3 linked regions of the Homo sapiens genome follow. The protein of the gene in region 3 binds, or shares a complex with, the protein of the main gene of each other region. Each region holds a gene or a part of one and is shown on either strand. Other genes may lie near its edges.

Region 1 (4,139 bases), on a different chromosome or scaffold from region 3:
GTGCCAGACCTTTTTGGAACTGTTTAGGATACAGCAGTGAACCAGTGATCCCTGTCCTCATGGAACTTCCCTTCTGGTGTAGACAATCACCATAATAAATAAGTGAATTATTTAGAACATAATAAGCATTAAGGAAAAAAGAGCAGGGGAAGAGGGACTAAGCATGCTGGAGGAGGTAGAGTTGCAGTTGAAAGCAGGTGGAGGAAGCTTCATTCAGAAGGTAACATCTGAACAAGAGACTTAAAGGTGTTTGCTGGGAATGAGCATTCTAGGTAGAAGGAAAAGTGAATGCAAAGGCTTAAGCTGAGAGTGTGCTTTGTCTAGGGAGGGGTAAGGAGACCAGTGTGGATGGGCAGAGGAAGGGAACAGTAAGAGGAAGTAAGATCAGAGAGGTCATGGGAGAAGGAGAGATCATAGAGGGCTAGCCAGGCACCGTGGCTCACGCCTGTAATCCCAGCACTTTGGAGGCTGAGGTGGGAGGATTGGTTGAGCCCAGGAGTTTGAGACCAGCCTGGGCAATATAGTGAGACCCCCCCCCCTTTTTTTTTTTTCCTTTGAGACAGGGTCTCACTCTGTTGCCCAGGCTGGAGTACAGTGGTGCCATCTCTGCTCACTGCAACCTCCGCCTCCTGGGTTCAAGCCATTCTCTTGCTTCAGCCTCCCAAGTAGCTGGGACTACAGGCGCCCACCACTGCACCAAGCTAATTTCTGTACTTTTAGTAGAGATGGGGTTTCACCACGTTGGCCAGGCTGGTCTTGACCTCCTGACCTCAGGTGATCCACCTGCCTCAGCCTCCCAAAGTGCTGGGATCACAGGCATGAGCCACCGTGCCCGGCCAACCCTGTCTCTATTAAAAATAAAAATAGGCCAGGTGCAGTGGCTCACGCCTGTAATGGAGGCCGAGGCAGGTGGATCACAAGGTCAAGAGATCAAGACCATCCTGGCCAACATGGTGAAACCCCATCTCTACTAAAAATACAAAAATTAGCCGTGCGTGGTGGCGCGTGCCTGTAGTCCCAGCTACTCGGGAGGCTGAGGCAAGAGAATTGCTTGAACCCGGGAGGCCAAGGTTGCAGTGAGCCGAGATTGTGCCACTGCACTCCAGCCTGGGCAACAAGAGTGAAACTCTGTCTCAAAAAACAAATAATAAATAAATAAATAAATAAATAAATAAATAAATAAATAAAAAAGATCATGGAGGACCACATAGGCCTGATAAGGGCTTTGGCTTTTAGTCTAAGAGAAATGGGGGAGCCTGTCAAGGTCATCACAAGGTGGTTAAGGTGGCAGATCCCGCATAAGAGCTCATGCTATTTGCTCACTGTACTATGGGGTTGCCGAGGCACCGACCGGGCAGGGATCCTCCCAGGGGCACTCAGCCTATATTCTTCATCTTTAGCATGGGGTCCTGTCCCAGCAATTCGTGGAGCTCATCAACAAGTGCAATTCAATGCAGTCCGAATACCGGGAGAAGAACGTGGAGCGGATTCGGAGGCAGCTGAAGATCAGTGAGTTGTGCATGCCCAGCCTGGCCCGCAGGGGCAGGTAATCCCAACCCAACCCTGAGCCTGGCCTTTTCCTTCACAGCCAATGCTGGGATGGTGTCTGATGAGGAGTTGGAGCAGATGCTGGACAGTGGGCAAAGCGAGGTGTTTGTGTCCAATGTGAGTGGCCACAGCCAGCCCCTCTCTGCTGTGCCTCCCATCCCCTCTGAGTCCTGTCCGTTTCTCGACCTCCTGGGCTCAGGTGATCCTCCTGCCTCAGCCTCCCGAGTAGCTGGGACTATAGGTGCAAGCCACTGCACCCCGCTTGCTGTGGCCCTTTCTGATTAAGGGCACCCTGAGGCCTCTAAGGGAATTAATTAGCCTGCCTGGAGTCACCCATCAGATTCCAGGCTGAGGGCTCCCCAGAAGCTCAACAGGAGTTTCTGACCTGCTGTCGGTCTCCCTGTGAACAGTTGCCCCACTCCTGTCCACCCCCCAGATCCTGAAGGACACGCAGGTGACTCGACAGGCCTTAAATGAGATCTCGGCCCGGCACAGTGAGATCCAGCAGCTTGAACGCAGTATTCGTGAGCTGCACGACATATTCACTTTTCTGGCTACCGAAGTGGAGATGCAGGTGGGTGCCCCGCGCAGCCCCAGACGTGAGACCAGGCTCAGTCCAAACTGCCAGCCTCCCGCCACCCTTAGATTCTCTCCCTGAGGCTTTTGTGTCTTCCAGGTTTGGCCATGCCCCCAGATTGGTGCTTATTCCTATCCTTAGCTGTACCCCGAGAATGGCACCTGCCTCTGCTGCTACACAGATGCCCACTCCCTTCTGCATAGCACCCTGCCCCCTCTCCAAAACTTGAGCCTGCCCAGGTCTGGCCCCAGCCCTCACTCCCCCTCCACTAACAGCATCCACCCTTATACCTCTCAGAGGTCCAGTCAGAGTTGCCCTAGAGGGGCTGCCTCCTAACATCTGTACAAGGCTGGGGTGGGGGCGGCGTTCCCCTGGCCCTGGTTGTGAGTTGAGTTGAGCTTCCAGCCCTGTCCTGGAGGAGCTGGCCTCAGTCATGCTACAGCCAATGCCCTTTTGCAGCTGAGACTTACAGGAAAGAGATCTCATTCAGTAGGAGTACTGAGACCTGAGGCTGGTGGTGCCAGGAGGAGGCAGGGATAGGGAGGGCTTTGCAGCAGCTGTAGATAGGCCTGGAAGAATGGGTAAATTCAGACAGATTTGTGAAGGCACAGTTCACCATCTGTGAAAGGTATGAGCCATTTGAGGCCCTTAGCTCCAAGCTACCACTGCAGATAGAGGTTGTATGGGATAAGTGAGCAGGGGACAAGGGACTACATGATAGAAGGGGCCTGGAAGCCATCCCCAAGGAGTCTGAACTTTTGTCAGATCAAGTCTTGCCCTTGTCTTTGTTAGTGCAATTTTTTTTTCCTGCCAGGAATGTTCTTCAGTCATCTGGGGTGGGGTGGGCAAAGGCATCCTTACCTCCCTGAACCACCCCATCCTCTGAGCAGGGGGAGATGATCAATCGGATTGAGAAGAACATCCTGAGCTCAGCGGACTACGTGGAACGTGGGCAGGAGCACGTCAAGACGGCCCTGGAGAACCAGAAGAAGGCGAGGAAGGTGAGCCTCCCAGGCCCGGCCACTGCCCCAGGCACCCTGTGTGACTTCCCTGACCCCCTCCTCTCCCACAGAAGAAAGTCTTGATTGCCATCTGTGTGTCCATCACCGTCGTCCTCCTAGCAGTCATCATTGGCGTCACAGTGGTTGGATAATGTCGCACATTGTTGGTGAGATGTTGTGGGCTGCCCCCTGGCCTGCCCCAGCCCTGGCCCCAGCCCTCCCTCCTCCCTCAGACCCTGTTCTCCCTCCTTTCCTTACAGGCACTAGGAGCACCAGGAACCCAGGGCCTGGCCTTCTCTCCCAGCAGCCTGGGGGGCAGGGCAGAGCCTCCAGTCGGACCCCTTCCTCACACTGGCCCCTATGCAGAAGGGCAGACAGTTCTTCTGGGGTTGGCAGCTGCTCATTCATGATGGCCTCCTCCTTCAGGCCTCAATGCCTGGGGGAGGCCTGCACTGTCCTGATTGGCCGGGACACACGGTTTTGTAAAAAATTAAAAAACAAAAAAAGAGCATAGAAAGCCCTGTGCACGTGTGTTCCTGGAAGGGCTGGCCCAAGGCTTCCGGGCATCCAACCTCCTTACCTCCTGGACGTCCCCAGGGCCAGGTCTGGCCCTGGCTGCTCAGGTCAAACTGCCAGGGGTGCTGTGCCCACAGCAGGCTGGTTCTGCCTTTCTGCACCCCCATAGGAATGGGTGGGCAGGGAGGGGTAACACCGGCATCTAGCTCCTGGCTCAGTACTGTCCCCGGGAAAGGACCACTGTGAGTATCTGTCTTGGAAATGATGAGGCTGACCAGGCCAGGCTGGGACGCAGGTGAGATGGGGGTTTGGGTGGCATCAGTGGGCCTTCTTGTGGCCCAGAGGAAGAGGCACCATGAAAAAATGCCTAATTGAGGCTGTCACTTTGGATGCAGTGGATAGGGATGGTCTGGTTTCAGCAGGGATGACATTGGAGTGGGATGTTAAGCTGGGGAAGAGGTTGCCAGTCAGAAAGCACAGGAGGCCGGGCCCTGTGA
Region 2 (6,985 bases), on a different chromosome or scaffold from region 3:
TTGGAAGGTAGGGACTGCAATAAAATTGCAGTTTCAATGCAATTTTATTCAACTTAATATAACCTCTACAACAATTCAGTGAGATGGAAATCTGGCATCAGGCATATATTTGAGGAATGGAATGGAAGAATAGAAATTGAACCAGATAAAACGCATCCTAGAAGTAACAGCAAATGCTTCAAGGAAGGCACTTACCAAAAGGCATACTATAACTTATTACATTTCATTAAGTCTGACAACCAGGGCTAAACCTGAATTAGAATATGTGCTTCTGGTATTTACCAGACTTTTCTCTATAAGGAATCCAGGCCAAACAAAATAACAGCCAAACTTTTGACATCTAATTGTAGTAAAAGCACAGGACATCCATCACTAGCTCTTCTAGTTAAACTTCCCACAAGAGAAGATGGGGAGTGGGGAACGGTTGCAAGAACAGGAGATAATACACAAAGCAATGACAACATAAAATCAAAATTGCTTAAAAGAATGTATGTTTCCTCTACGTCAGGGGGACAGTGTCCCTGAACAACACAGCCCATGAACTCACTTAAGGTGATGTGACACCTACTCACATCAATACATAGCAGAACTGCAAGTTGCATTGTCATGCGGTCCAACCCTGTGACATATGCACAAAGCTTTTCTCAAACATCTCTGAAAAGCAGTCATCACTCTGTTTAATCACTTCCAGTGACAGGGAACTCAGCACCCTATGGGACTGTTACTGTCCCTGAGGCCCATTAACTCAAAACTCAAACACATTTTCACCACTCAGGGAGAGGTGGAAGTGATCACAGGGCTCTCCAAAGGGCTTGCCAACCCAACTGTGCCTCCTGTCTCTACCATTCCCAAATCCCCCCTTTCCCTGAGCAGGACTCAAAATTAGCACAGTGTTAATAAATCAGTGGTTTCAGAGTTAGAAGGGACCCTTAAAAAGCCAATACTGTGATATTCATACCACAGTTCTACAAAAGGAATCTCAAGAAGTGCTTGGGCCAAACTGGGAGGGAGAGTGTCCTGTTTCTCTTCCTCTTATTTCAACCTAGGAAGCTCCCACTTTAATTTGTTACATATAGAGGACCAAGGTAGTTTTTTAAAAGGAGGAGGAGAAAAAAAGGACCATTTACAGGTAAATAAACTGAGGTCTTAAAACTTGCTTAATGAAATCATATAGCTAATAGTTGCAGGGTTCAGACAACAACCTCGTCTCTTGGCTCCTTCTCTGGTGCTTTCTCTACCAGATAACATCTGACCATCTACAGGGCAAAATTCAAACTCTGCAATGATACACAAAGCCCTTTAAGATCTCCGCGTCCAATTTTTATGAGAGTCCCACATTCCAGTCTCACTCAAATGTTTATTGAACCAACTTATGTCAGACTGTTACCTACCTCCACAGCTTAGCGCATACTATTCTCTTAGCCTGAGATGTCCTTCTGCACTGGAACCAACTAATCCTCTTTCAAGATTTGTTTTAGGCATCATCGCCTCTATAAAGCCTTTTCTGGTCCTCAGGTAGAACTGACCACATTCTTTTTGTGCCCTACACAACACCTGCAAGGCTTTATGGCACTTGTTTTATGTCTATGTCCGTCTACTCCACCACTGCTTTTACATCATATTACTCTAACACGAGGCTGGTCAGAAGGTAGGTGCTTCATAGACGGTCATCAATAGGGCGAGTGTATTCATCTGGTCCAATCCCCTTTCTAATGTTTAAGTATCCTCTGCTAACTGTCATTAATGCATGCATGACTACATTCATTCAAAAATATCTGAGTGTCTATACAGTGCCAAGTGTATGCCAAGCAGAGAAGGATTTACTGTGAAATTAATGAGGCTTAAGCTTTAGGGTCCCTCTCTTCAATCTTCCAAAGCTCTGAATCTTTCTTGGTGATTTTTATTTCTTGAAGAGGGCAGACAGAACTATATAAGCTGTAGGCCCCACAAAACCTAGATACCTCCTTGGTGTCACGAACACAAAAGGGAACAAGACAAACAGCTCTCCCCTTATGGAGTTTTCTGTTTAATGGGAAAGACAGCCATTTGTTCATTCACTCATTCAACAAACATTTACTAAGCAATGCTATGAGTCATGCATTCTGAGATGAAAACAACACTGTCCCTGCCCTTAAGGAAAAGGTTCCTGTTCCCAGGGAGATGAAGGGACACCTGCTCTGATCAGGGAACAGAAAGTAGTTGAGGTGACTGTAACACTGTGTTTGCGAAAGATTACCCTAAACCCGTCTCAAGAGGAACTGAGTCCTACTTATTGCAGAGACAAAGGGAAGAAAGAGTTCGGCTGAATACAGTTTTTAATCTCAACTAGGGGTGGGAGGCAGACAAGTAAATAGAACAGGCAAATATGGTGTGGTCAGTGCTGCAACAGGAAGCGAAGGACTGTCAGGAGGTTTCCCCTGAGTGCAAGTCTGTAGTGACGGCGAACTCATGACCTCACAAAGCCGCCCATGCACTTTCCAGATAGAGATTTCTGAGGATCTCCTTTCTTGTCCCCCAATCCCTGTCGCCGCAGGAGAAATCTGTTCCCCAATATGCGTCCCCCTTCCTCAAAATAAGGCTGTTCCTTCCCCCAAAAAGCTGTAGGGTCTCTGAGGCCAACTCTTCTGTCCCCCTTAGAGCCACCCCCTTCACACAATGCTTACGGGACGGGGTCTGGTTTGGGGCCCGGGGTCCCTGTCGCAGGACTGCCCCCTCCTCAACCCGCCGTTTCCATAGCAACCAGCTCACCACTTCGCGGGCCCGGCTGGAGAAGTCGCCCTTGGGCCGGGGGCTCCGGCGGAACAGCTCGTCCCGGCTGCCATCGACCCCGCCGCCCACCGCCACTCCCAGCGCCTTGTTCCGCGTCTTCACGGTCTTGACGCTGGCCCGGAATAGCAGCGTGATGTCCACCGCCATAGCGACCCGCACCCTCAGCCCCACACTAGGCCCGCCCACGTAAGCAGCCGGCGACCGCGGCGCGAACCCGGCCGCTGAAGGACTGGTCCTGCCCCACACGCCTCCCCCCGGCAACGGCGACGCGAGAAGAAAGGTTCCGGCCTGCGCCCTGCTACCGCGGCGGGAGGAAAAAGGTTCCGGCCTCAGCCGGCGCACCTGGCGGAGGAGGAACCTCGCGACGCGCTCTCGGGCATCGGTTTCTCCCAGCAAAGCTTGGAGGGTTTAGCTGCGCGGAGAGCTCAGCGAGCTCTTCTGTGTCTGTTTGGGGCGTGTGGGCTCCGGGAGCGTGAGGACCGGGAAGCTAGGAGGCTCCTTCCCTTCTGGCGGCTCCCTCACTGAGACCGGGCGGTTTGGTTGCGGGGGAAGTGGAGACGAGCCACCCTTGACCTTTGACTGCAAGAACTCACCTTGAGCAGGATAGAGGCACGTGGACGGTGACCCTCGGGATGCAATAAATGCTGAGACAGATCAGGTGTGCAAGGCACAGAGCTAGAGGCCAGAGGCCTTTCTTCTCCAACCTTCAGTCACCTCTTTTTAAAGTGAAGCCAGCATCCTCCTCGGGGTTTACTGTGAAAATTAAGTGAGCTGACGCGTGCTGTGTTTTGATGTTGCTTGGCTCCTAGTAAGTGGCCAATAAATGGTAGTAATCGTTAATAATGTTATTATTATAATCACTGTTATTTGTGGTAAAGGAAGAGGCTTTAGAGAAAAGGCGTCACCTGTGCAGAGATTTGAAGGATGAATAGGAAGTTTAGATGGAGACAAAGGTGAAAGAGTGGCCCTAATGCCGCTGGATTCTCTTCATCCTTCATGCATAGTTTTTAATTGTACCGTCTTGAGCCATAGCTATTAAAATTGACAACTCAATCAATGAGTTTCTTCTGCATTTTAGGTTCATGTTCTGTTTTGTGTTGTTTTTTGAGACGGGGGTCTACTATGTTGCCCAGGCTGGATTGCAGTGGCTAGTCAGAGGCGCCATCCTAGCTCACTACAGCTGGAACGCCAGGGCTCAAACGATCCTCCCGGACTCAGCCTCCTGAGTAGCTGGGACTATAGGCACGTGCAACCGTGCCTGGCCTATGGTTCAGTTTTAATTCAAAATCTCATTGATTTCTTCAAGATTTCTTTTTTCATAAAGAGGAAGCACAAGTAGAATATGTATTAAAACAGCAGTTTTAATGGTCATCAAGATAAAATTTTCACAATACTAAGATGTTATTTGCCTTTTCGCTCTGATTTTCTTATGAGTTGCATACAGTTGAGTTTGCTGGAGACTGTGATATTGCAACGGAGTAAATGCAGAACAGCTGTTTTCTATTAAGCCAGACTCCAAAAAAAGACTTTCAAAAACATCAAGTTTTTGTTTTGATTTCTCATATAGTAAATGTCGATAATGTCAATATAAACCAAAATTGTTTAGAGCCCTTAATAATTTTTAAGTGTGCAAAAGAGTTGAGACCAAAAGTTTGAGAACCACTGTGTTAAAAAAATAAAGTTTATCAGAAATAGATGTCAAGAAAGTATATATTTACCAGAAAGGAGGAAGGAAAAGATTTTTTTTTTCTTTGAGGCGGAGTCTTGCTCTGTCGCCCAGGCTGGAGCAAGCTCCGCCTCCCGGGTTCACGCCATTCTCCTGCCTCAGTCTCCCGAGTAGCTGGGACTACAGGCGCCCACCGCCACGCCTGGCTAATTCTTTTGTATTTTTAGTAGAGATGGGGTTTCACCGTGTTAGCCAGGATGGTCTCGATCTCCTGACCTCGTGATCCGCCTGCCTCAGCCTCCCAAAATGCTGGGATTACAGGCGTGAGCCACCGCGCCCGGCCAGGAAAAGATTATTTAAACCCAAACTGTAGCCACTTCTTGCAGTTTAAGGAAAATAAATTTCCATACAGCTTTCTTCCACCTACTGAGGAAAAGAGAAAGAAATTACAAAATCTCTGCCAATGATTCTATCTTGCATAAATGGCCCTTTGTTTAATCCAGACATTAATCAGTTTTTGGCCATGCAAAGTTAAGCCTGGGGTAGAGTAGAAGGAAAGAGAGATTGCCCTGCATAATAAAGTGAGGGGGATTGAATTGGGGGGAAGAAAAGAGAAGCCAGAACCCAGGGAGGGGGCCGGGAAAGTACAAAGTAGGTAACTGGGAAGGATCTTTGAGTGGGAGGGAGGCTGAACTACACCAAGCCTTCAGTGAGTGGTGCCTTGTGTAAACCGTGTGTTTGGTGCAGTTGGATATTTTGGGTAGAAGGGTAGGGACAAAGATCTAAGTTTTCTGTCTGGATTTGCAAGAGCAGAGAAGATTGTGGTGGATATAAGACCCAAGTGAGCTCAAAACATCAGGCTGTAAATCCACAAGTGACCACAAGTACATAAAATTCCTAAATAAGTCACAAAGATCTTGAGGAGGCTGCTGAACTTTCCACAGACCATGGGATATGGGGTTGTGCTTTTTACATTTTGTGTTTACTCTTTAATTTAAAAGAGCAAAGTGACTTCAGTTGACAGTTGACTAATATTAAGCCCCATAAAGCTGAGAGGGGATGTGGGTTAAAAGGATGTGCAGAAATGTTGTGAGAGTATACTACTGCAACTCCAGGGCTCAAACAATCCTCCCGGCTCAGCCTCCTGAGTATCTGGGACTATAGGCGCGTGCCACCATGCCTGGCCTGTTGGAGGTAGCACACAACTGCCCAGTTGGATGTAGTATACAAATTTTGTTTTCTTTATGCATTCAGCAAACATTGAGTGGGCCAGACACTGTTCTGAAAAATACGCAGTCGACTTTTGAACAGCACAGGCTTGAACTGCATGCGGCCACTAATACTCGGACTTCCTTCTGCCTCTGCCATCCCTAAGACAGCAAGACCCACCCCTCCTGCTCCTCAGCCTACTCGATGTGATGATGGTGAGTATGAAGACCTTTACTTTATGATGATCCACTTCCATTTAATGGATAGTAAATATATTTTCTCTTCCTATGATTTTCTTAATACCATTTTCTTTTCTCTAGCTTACTTTATTGAAAGAATACAGTATCTAATACATATGACATGCAAAATATGTGTTAACGGACTGTTTATGTTATTGATAAGGATTCTGGTCAACAGTAGGCTATTATTAGTTAAGATGTTAGGGAGTCAGAAGTTATACACAAATTTCCAACTGTGAGGGGTGGAGGAGTCATCAAGGATCAACTGTATTGGCACCCCTAAATATAGCTCACTACAGCAGCAACACCTATGCAAGGAGACTAGATGTAGGCTGCCAGTGAAAACCAACGTGTAATTTCTGGGCAGCAAATTTAAGAGCTAATGTATGATTCACGATGCTCTTTTCCCTCTGCTATGACAACCCTTAATGTTCCAATGTTCCATCAGCCTGAGTCCTTAAGTAAAGATGACATGGAGCATAGCCAACCAAGGACATTGTATTAGTCAGAGTTCTCTAGAGGGACAGAACTAATAGGATAGGTGTATATATAAAGGGGAGCTTATTAAGGAGTATTGACTCACATGATCACAAGGTGAGGTCCCACAATAGGCCATCTGCAAGCTGAGGAGCAAGGAGAGACAGTCCAAGTCCCAAAGCTGAAGAACTTGGAGTCTGATGTTCCAGGGCAGGAAGCATCCAGCACGGGAGAAAGATGTAGGCCAGAAGACTAAGCCAGTCTAGTCTTTCCATGTTCTTCTGCCTGCTTTTCTTCTGGCCATGCTGGCAGCTGATTAGATTGTACCCACCTAGATTGAGAGTGGGTCTGCCTTTCCCAGTTCACTGACTCAAACGTTAATCTCCTTTGGCAACACCCTCACAGACACACCCAGGAACAATACTTTGCATCCTTCAGTCAAGTTGACACTCAATATTAACCATCACAGACATGTACTAAGATTGAGAATTGTCCACAGATTTGTGGGTGTTTGTTAACTGCAGCATAATTAGCCTGTCCTGATTGATGACAACCCATATCTAGGTATCTACCAAAACAGGAATATTAGATGTATTCTCCACTCACCATCGTAACAGTATTATTC
Region 3 (7,214 bases):
GATCACCCAAGGTCAGGAGTTCGAGACCAGCCTGACCAACATGGAGAAACCCCGTTTCTACTAAAAATACAAAATTAGCCAGGCGTGGTGGCGCACGCCTGTAATTCCAGCTACTTGGGAGGCTGAGGCAGGAGAATCGCTTGAACCCGGGAAGTGGAGGCTGAGGTGAGCCAAGATCATGCCATTGCACTCCAGCCTGGGTAACAAGAGCAAAACTCTGTCTCAAAAGAAAAAAAAAAGTTTAATTTTAATACTTGAGGCTTTTATCTGACATCCTGAAAATGACAATGTGGCAGAATAACATTACCACTTAAATTACCTCAGGCTGAGAAAGTAATACTCAAAGATGTGTTTCTTGGCCGGGCATGGTGGCTCATGCCTGTAATCCCAGCACTTTGGGAGGCCGAGGTGGATCACCTGAGGTCAGGAGTTCGAGACCAGCCTGACCAAAAATGGTGAAATCCCGTCTCTACTAAAAATACAAAAAAAAATTAGTCAGGCGTGGTGGTGTGCACCTGTAATCCCAGCTACTCAGGGGGCTGAGGCAGGAGAATTGCTTGAACCTGGGAGGCGGAGGTTGCAGTGAGCCGAGATCGCGCCGCTGCACTCCAGCCCAGGCAACGGAGTGAGACTCCGTCTCAAAAAAAAAAAAAAAAAAAAAGATGTGTTTCTACCAAGTAGAAACCAAATGATACCAAAACATGCTGTGTGAACAGAGGTTATACAACTGTTCAAATAAAGTAGTAGAATTAACTCATTACATAGCACATGGTGATAGTCAATGCAAAATCTTTAAAAAGTATTCTGTATCATTATATTATTGCAGTAGGATCTATTACATTAATTCTTGCAAGAGTTCATTGGCAGAATGTTTCATAGGAAATATAAAAAGGAAATTAATTTTTTTCCACCCCTGTATCATGAGCAGATTATTAAATTAACTGGCCCACCAAATTAATGGAGGGAGGTACACAAGGTGCTTGGGAAGAGATGGGAGATCCTTTTAGGAGGGATGGATGGAAGAAGAGAAGGCACTGAGAGCAAGGTAAAGAAGGTACATAAGCTAGCCTGATAAGATGGAATGGTCCACCTTTGGTGAATGAGAAGGTTGAGGAATACGGCTGATGGCCTTACATAAAGAAGGCCTTGTATAAATCATGTCATTTAAATTTGATCAAATAGGGAGTCTATTTCAGTTCAACACGTATATACTGGTGGGTTACTATATGACAGTCAAAGTAGACACTAGAGGTATAAAGTTAAGGAAGAAGGGACTCCTATACTTGAGGGAGCCATAGAACAATGGGGAAGACAGATATAAATAAATGCAATAAAGTATAATAAGTGAATAATCTAAGAATGTCCGCAATTGCTCAGGAAATGTCTTAATGTTTTGTGATGATCTCACCTCGGATGAAGAACAGGAATGCAGGTGTCAGCCTATGCCTTAGAAATTTCCTCAGTATACTGTTAGGATTATTTCTCCTTGGAAGAGAGGTCAAAGTGTCTATTTTACCCTATTTTCCCAGTGCTCAGCACAGTGCCTACCATCTAATATTCCCTCAAATATCTGTTGAATAAATGAGTGAACATTGAGCATATTTTGGTTTTAAAATATACTATAAATGGTAGATAACTTTATATTCAGAAGGACCTGGTAAGAATAATATTTTCACAACCAAACTATCTTTCTAAGTAAGATAAAGCAGTTGAGCTAATAGTAATCCAATCCCCCACTCTTCTCTCTGGGTCTTAGAAGGAATAAACCAACTACAGATAAACCATGAATTCTGATGCAATAACCTTGGAGGAGATAGAAGAATGAAGAATAAACACTGCTTAGACAGGGGAAAAGAAGAGGTGTTTACGAAAAGTCATGTTACAGATCAAGATTATTCCTGTTGGTATTACAACTATTCTTTCTGGACGATGCCCTGACCTCTGACTTTCTTAGGATAGGATCCCATCCTTTCAAGTCAACCACCTGTTTTATTTTGCATTAACCAATATATAACATAATCCTGATTATTCCTGTTTTCCCCTCTAGACACAAACATGTAAGTTCCTGAGAGTAGCAACCTCCTAAGTCTTGTTTACAGCTGTATCCCCTGCACTTAAAAGAGTGTCAAGCATATACCAGCCGTTCAATAAATATTTGTTAAATGTATGAATGGATCTGCTCTCAGCCACAGGTATTCAAAGGGAATTAATATCCTAAACATGACTGTATCCTCTGGGATCAAGGGAGGGATAATGGAGATACAGGTAGTTGAAAGCAATTAATGAGGCCAAATGAAGACAGTTGGTTGGTTGTGAGAGTTATGGGAGACGGAGATGTAAAGCATTTACCAAAGTACGCAGTCAGAATTTGATAAACATTGGCCATTAATAAAAACACCAAACAGGTCTGAAGCTGAGGAAACGGGTCTAGGCAGAAATACAGTCCCTGAACAGAGGAAGAAGGGGACTGTCAATACTGAGCAGTGGAGGAAGGGCGAATAAGGGGCTAGGAACCCACGAAGGAGCATAAACAGCCAGAAGTAGAAGGTGAAGCAGAAAGTGACGTCATCGAACAAGGACGTAGAGAGTTTTTAGAAGACTCTGGCGATCTCAAGAGATTTAAATGCTACAGAAAGGTCTTGTAGAATACAAACTGAGAGAAAGTTAACATTTTTTCCCTCCTGTAATGACAGCTTAAGTGACGCATTCTGACACTCTTTAACTCGAGGCCTTTCCAGTGGCATAAGACGCACCTCGCCAAAACTGGTCCTGCCCGACAACTGGAACTGTCGACACCAGAGAAGCCCAAGTCACCCCTGCACTGCCTCCTCGCTCCACCCCAGCACCTTTCCATCGACACCTCCGCCCTCCCTCCGCAGTTCTCTCCCCGCCTCCCGCAGGCGCACCCCACTCCATTTACCTGTCCGGGCACCCTCTGAGGGCGCGCGGGCTCGGGACGGAGGGACGCGGGTCAGTGCAGGGTCGCCAACTGCCCGCTCCCAGAGGAGGCTGGGACCGGACGCCGCTGACTTCCGCATGAAGCGCCCCGTCTACGCGTGGCCTCTTGGGAGTGGGAGCGCTCCTCCAATGGCAGCAGGCGACACGGCTAGGCCTGCTGCGTTCCCAGCCCCCCGCACTTCCCAGGAGCCGTACTGCATTCTGGGAGTAGTAGTTCCGGTTGGAGTATCACTGAGTGTTTCACGTTCGTTCGACAGCTCTTGTGGTAAACAGCGTCAAATGCCGTATAGGGATCCAGGAAAATGAGAGGATGCAGGCTAGATAAAGAATCTACCAGCAATGAGTAGGCGGCATAAATGAAGAGCCAAGCTTGCCCCGTCTCTCCTGCTTAGTCTCAGTAGGCAGCGTCGCCCGTTTCCTCACAGACAAAATAGAATTCATCTGACAGGAACTGCCTCTACTTTCGCCATGAAATTTTCTAATTTTCTTGTACCCCTCACCAATCCTTTCTCCTATTCTTTTTGCAATAATAATAATAATAAACGACTACTCTCCTTTGATCTAAGCCAGCCCTCTTCCATCTCTATTCCCTGTTGCCGACTCAGAGTCAAGCTCCTCTGATGAACCCTTCCGTTGCATGACTCCTCAACGGCTCTCTGCTAACTCGCTCTTTACTATCAGGACTTAAAGGCTGTCAAAATTTCTCTCATCTAAAACATTCCAAAGTCACCTTTCTTAACCCCATACCCCAAGCCCCCTCATCAAACACAGACCAAACACAGATAAGCTAGTGGTCTTTCTCTCACCTCTCCTTTACAGACAGAATTCTCAACAGTGTTGCTAAAACAAATAGATACTTTTAAGCCATTACCGTATTTCAACTCTGCAGGACTTTAGTTTCATTATTCCTTTTTTTTTTTTTTTTTTTTTTGAGATGGAATCTCACTCTGTTGCCCAGGCTGGAGTGCAGTGCCGCGATCTCGGCTCACTGCCAGCTCCGTCTCCCGGGTTCAAGCGATTCTCCTGCCTCAGTCTCCCAAGCAGTTGGGACTACAGGCGTGCGCCACCACAGGCAGCTAATTTTTTATATTTTTAGTAGAGACGGGGTTTCACCATATTGGCCAGGCTGGTCTCGAACTCCTGACCTCATAATCGACCCGCCTCAGTCTTCCAAAGTATTGGGATTACAGGCATGAGCCACCACACACGGCCCTTATTCCCTCCTTTTTGAACCCCTTTATTCTGTTAGCTCTTTCCAAGAACTACACCCTGCTGGTTCTCCTCCCACCTCTGTGGCAGCTCTTCATTTTCTTTAGAAATGTTCACATTCCATAGGGTTCTGCCCTATGCCATCTTCTCTTCTTACTCTTCACACTCTTCCTGGTGATCTTAATCATTCCCCTTGCTTTATCTCCCCTTTGCAAAGGTTCGCATTTGGTATTAATATCAACTTAATTATATTGTATTCAATATCTATTCTTTAAGAGGCAGCATAGTATCCTAGAAAAAGAATGAGTTTTAGAGTCAGAGAGATCTGAGTTACTAAGCTGTGTGAACTCTAAATATCGCCTCTCTTTAGAGCTTTCAGGACTCTAGCAAAGCCCCCTCTTACTCCATATTCTCTCCTAAAGTAATCTTATTTATACCCTAAAATTTGTAGTGTAATTATCTGGCCATGTAAGATGTGCCTGCTTCCCGTTTGCCTTCCACCATGATTGTAAGTTTCCTGAGGCCTCCCTGTCAGAGGTATGTGAACCAGAACAACTTTGTCTTGAATAGGAGCTGGGTAAAATAAGGCTGAGACCTACTGGGCTGCATTCCCAGACAGTTAAGGCATTCTAAGTCGCAGGATGAGATAGGAGGTCAGCACAAGATACAGGTCATAAAGATCTTGCTGATAAAACAGACTGCAGTAAAGAAGCCAGCCAAAACCCACCAAAACCAAGATGATGACGAGAGTGAATGTACACAGGCTAATTTCCTTAATATGGTTATTTTCAGCATCTAGGGTTACCATAGTGAATGGTGGGGCACTGATAAACATGGCTATCTAGACATTTAGAAATAGCTCCTGTATAAGTGTTCATCCTAGGGCTGGCAAATGCAGACCCTAGAAGGGCAGGCCAGGAAAGCCCTATATTCCAGTGGGACAGCAGAAATATTTGCCTCCTGGCAATTGGATCAAGATTGGATCCTGGCAATTGGATCAGGGTTTGCCTCCTGGCAATTGGATCAGGAATCTGATCCAGTTCTCCCTTGATGGGACTGAAGTAAGTTACTAAATCTTGGAGCCTTAGTTTTCTCCCCTGTAAAATGGAGATAATTCTATCCACCAAGCCCTAGCACGATCAGATGAGATAACAGAGATGAAAGCAGTCTGTTGACTTTTAAAGGGCTGCCAGATGTTCTAAATTATTACTATGCTAGGCAGTGCTGCAAATATGCATCTTAGATTTAGCAGTTTGTCCTCTATCCTACTTATTTTTATTTTATTATAAGTTCTGGGGTACATGTGTAGGATGTGCAGGTTTGTTATACAGGTAAATGTGTGCCATGGTAATTTGCTGCACCTATCAACCCATCACCTAGGTATTAAAGCCCAGCATGCATTAGCTATTTTTCCTGATGCTCTCCCTCCCCCAACCCCACCCCGACAGGCCCCAGTGTGTGTTGTTCTCTTCCCTGTGTCTATGTGTTCGCATTGTTTAGCTCCCACTTACAAGTGAGAACATGCAGTGTTTGATTTTCTGTTCCTGCATTAGTTTGGTGAGGATAATGGCTTCCAGCTTCACGTGATGTGTTATTTTGTGGTTTACAAACAAATCTAGTGATTCTGTTGCTTTTGAATCAAAATCACATGATTGCAGTGTATCACTGATTGCCATTGCTGTTCATGCTTCTTTTCTCCTGGATGTTTGGACTTAGGCAACTTTTCTTCCTCTTATACTATGCTGAAAACAGACCTACATCAAGGATACCTGTTCTCTTTTGAAATTCACAATCCGTAGAGGGAACTAACACATTATCAATAGCTATAAAATAATTGACATTTGAGTATGGGACATATTTTTGGTTGCAGCTTATTCCAGTTAGAGTCGTCACATATCTTCCTTTGTTCATCTGAGCCATCTGTGGTTCTAACATGAACTTTTGCAAAGCAGTTGTGAATAATTATTTTTTTTCTTTTTTTCTTTTTTTTTGAGATGAGGTCTGGCTCTGTTGCCTAGGCTGGAGTGCAGTGGCACGATCACAGCTCACTGCAGCCTTGAACTCCTGGGCTCAAGCGATCTTCCCGCCTCAACCTTCCTAGTAGCTGGGACTACAGGCACGTGCCACCATCCCCAGCTAATTACTTCCGAGGTGTCTGTGTTCCACATAGTAGTAAGATTTCTCATTACATCAAGAACATGCCATTTCTTTATATCTGTGATAGGAACACTGCTTCTCATAATGTGTCAAGCACTTCCAGCATCCACATTTTGATTATTTATTATATCTCAGTTTAATAGCTGCTTGTAGCCATGGTGCTGGCAGGCAAAAAATTTTTTTAAAGGCCACAGATGTGTTTGATTTAAACCTTCAATGACTATGTGCAGCTATTGGTAATAGAGTGTTCACGTTCTGGCAAGCCGTTTTTCTCTCTAATTATAGGAGCCATTCCCTAAACAACCTGCTAGATATCAGTGCATTTTTGTTAATTTTATATGCACACAGTTAAATTGTGTATATAAAGGAAATTTTAAATTCTTCATATAGATTATTTAAATTTCTTGTTCTTCTCAGCACTCTGGCAAAAGAAGGCTGATGACCCAACTCTCTTTATATATTTATTTTTGTCCAAAGAAATATTTTTCTGTCAGAGAATGCCTCTGGTTTGGTTGCAGATTACAGAGGTGTAGTAGATGTGCCCCATGGGTATCTCTATTCAGATTTCACTTCCTACTTTCAAGATCTTCAGCAAACAGAGTTATTGTAGATTCTTCACCTTTTAGGTGAAGTGACATGATATTGTGATAATGCCAAAAGCATTGTCACTTGCCATAAGACTTGACATCAACTCCCATCTGGAGAGCAGTTTCATTAGCCTTTTCTAAAAACTCGTGAGCATGCAGATATAGAAATACCTGCTCTGATGTGGCAAAGTTATTCAAGTGTTTTATTTACTAAGTTAGCATGTTTTGCTCCTCTCATTCTGTTACCAATTTCACCTCCCCTGGCTGCTTGTCTTTTTATCTTTTCCTAATATTTAAGAAACC

Evidence for each region. Proteins that work in one complex are often made in the same cells at the same time.
Region 1: VAMP7 (region 3) and STX4 share a complex: the UniProt entries of both Homo sapiens proteins name them as parts of the SNARE complex.
Region 2: VAMP7 (region 3) and STX18 share a complex: the UniProt entries of both Homo sapiens proteins name them as parts of the SNARE complex.

What each region holds. Positions count from the first base shown.
Region 1 is NC_000016.10:31,036,526-31,040,664, forward strand, and holds the end of STX4 (syntaxin-4), read left to right. Parts: intron 1-1,400; coding exon 1,401-1,509; intron 1,510-1,588; coding exon 1,589-1,665; exon of another isoform or gene 1,666-1,668; intron 1,669-1,984; coding exon 1,985-2,122; intron 2,123-3,015; coding exon 3,016-3,126; intron 3,127-3,197; coding exon 3,198-3,278; 3' UTR 3,279-3,293; intron 3,294-3,386; 3' UTR 3,387-3,639; downstream 3,640-4,139. UniProt on the Homo sapiens protein: Plasma membrane t-SNARE that mediates docking of transport vesicles. Necessary for the translocation of SLC2A4 from intracellular vesicles to the plasma membrane.
Region 2 is NC_000004.12:4,539,049-4,546,033, forward strand, and holds the start of STX18 (syntaxin-18), read right to left. Parts: upstream 3,001-6,985; 5' UTR 2,917-3,000; coding exon 2,749-2,916; intron 1-2,748. UniProt on the Homo sapiens protein: Syntaxin that may be involved in targeting and fusion of Golgi-derived retrograde transport vesicles with the ER.
Region 3 is NC_000023.11:155,877,155-155,884,368, reverse strand, and holds the start of VAMP7 (vesicle-associated membrane protein 7), read right to left. Parts: upstream 3,025-7,214; 5' UTR 2,921-3,024; intron 1-2,920. UniProt on the Homo sapiens protein: Involved in the targeting and/or fusion of transport vesicles to their target membrane during transport of proteins from the early endosome to the lysosome. Required for heterotypic fusion of late endosomes with lysosomes and homotypic lysosomal fusion.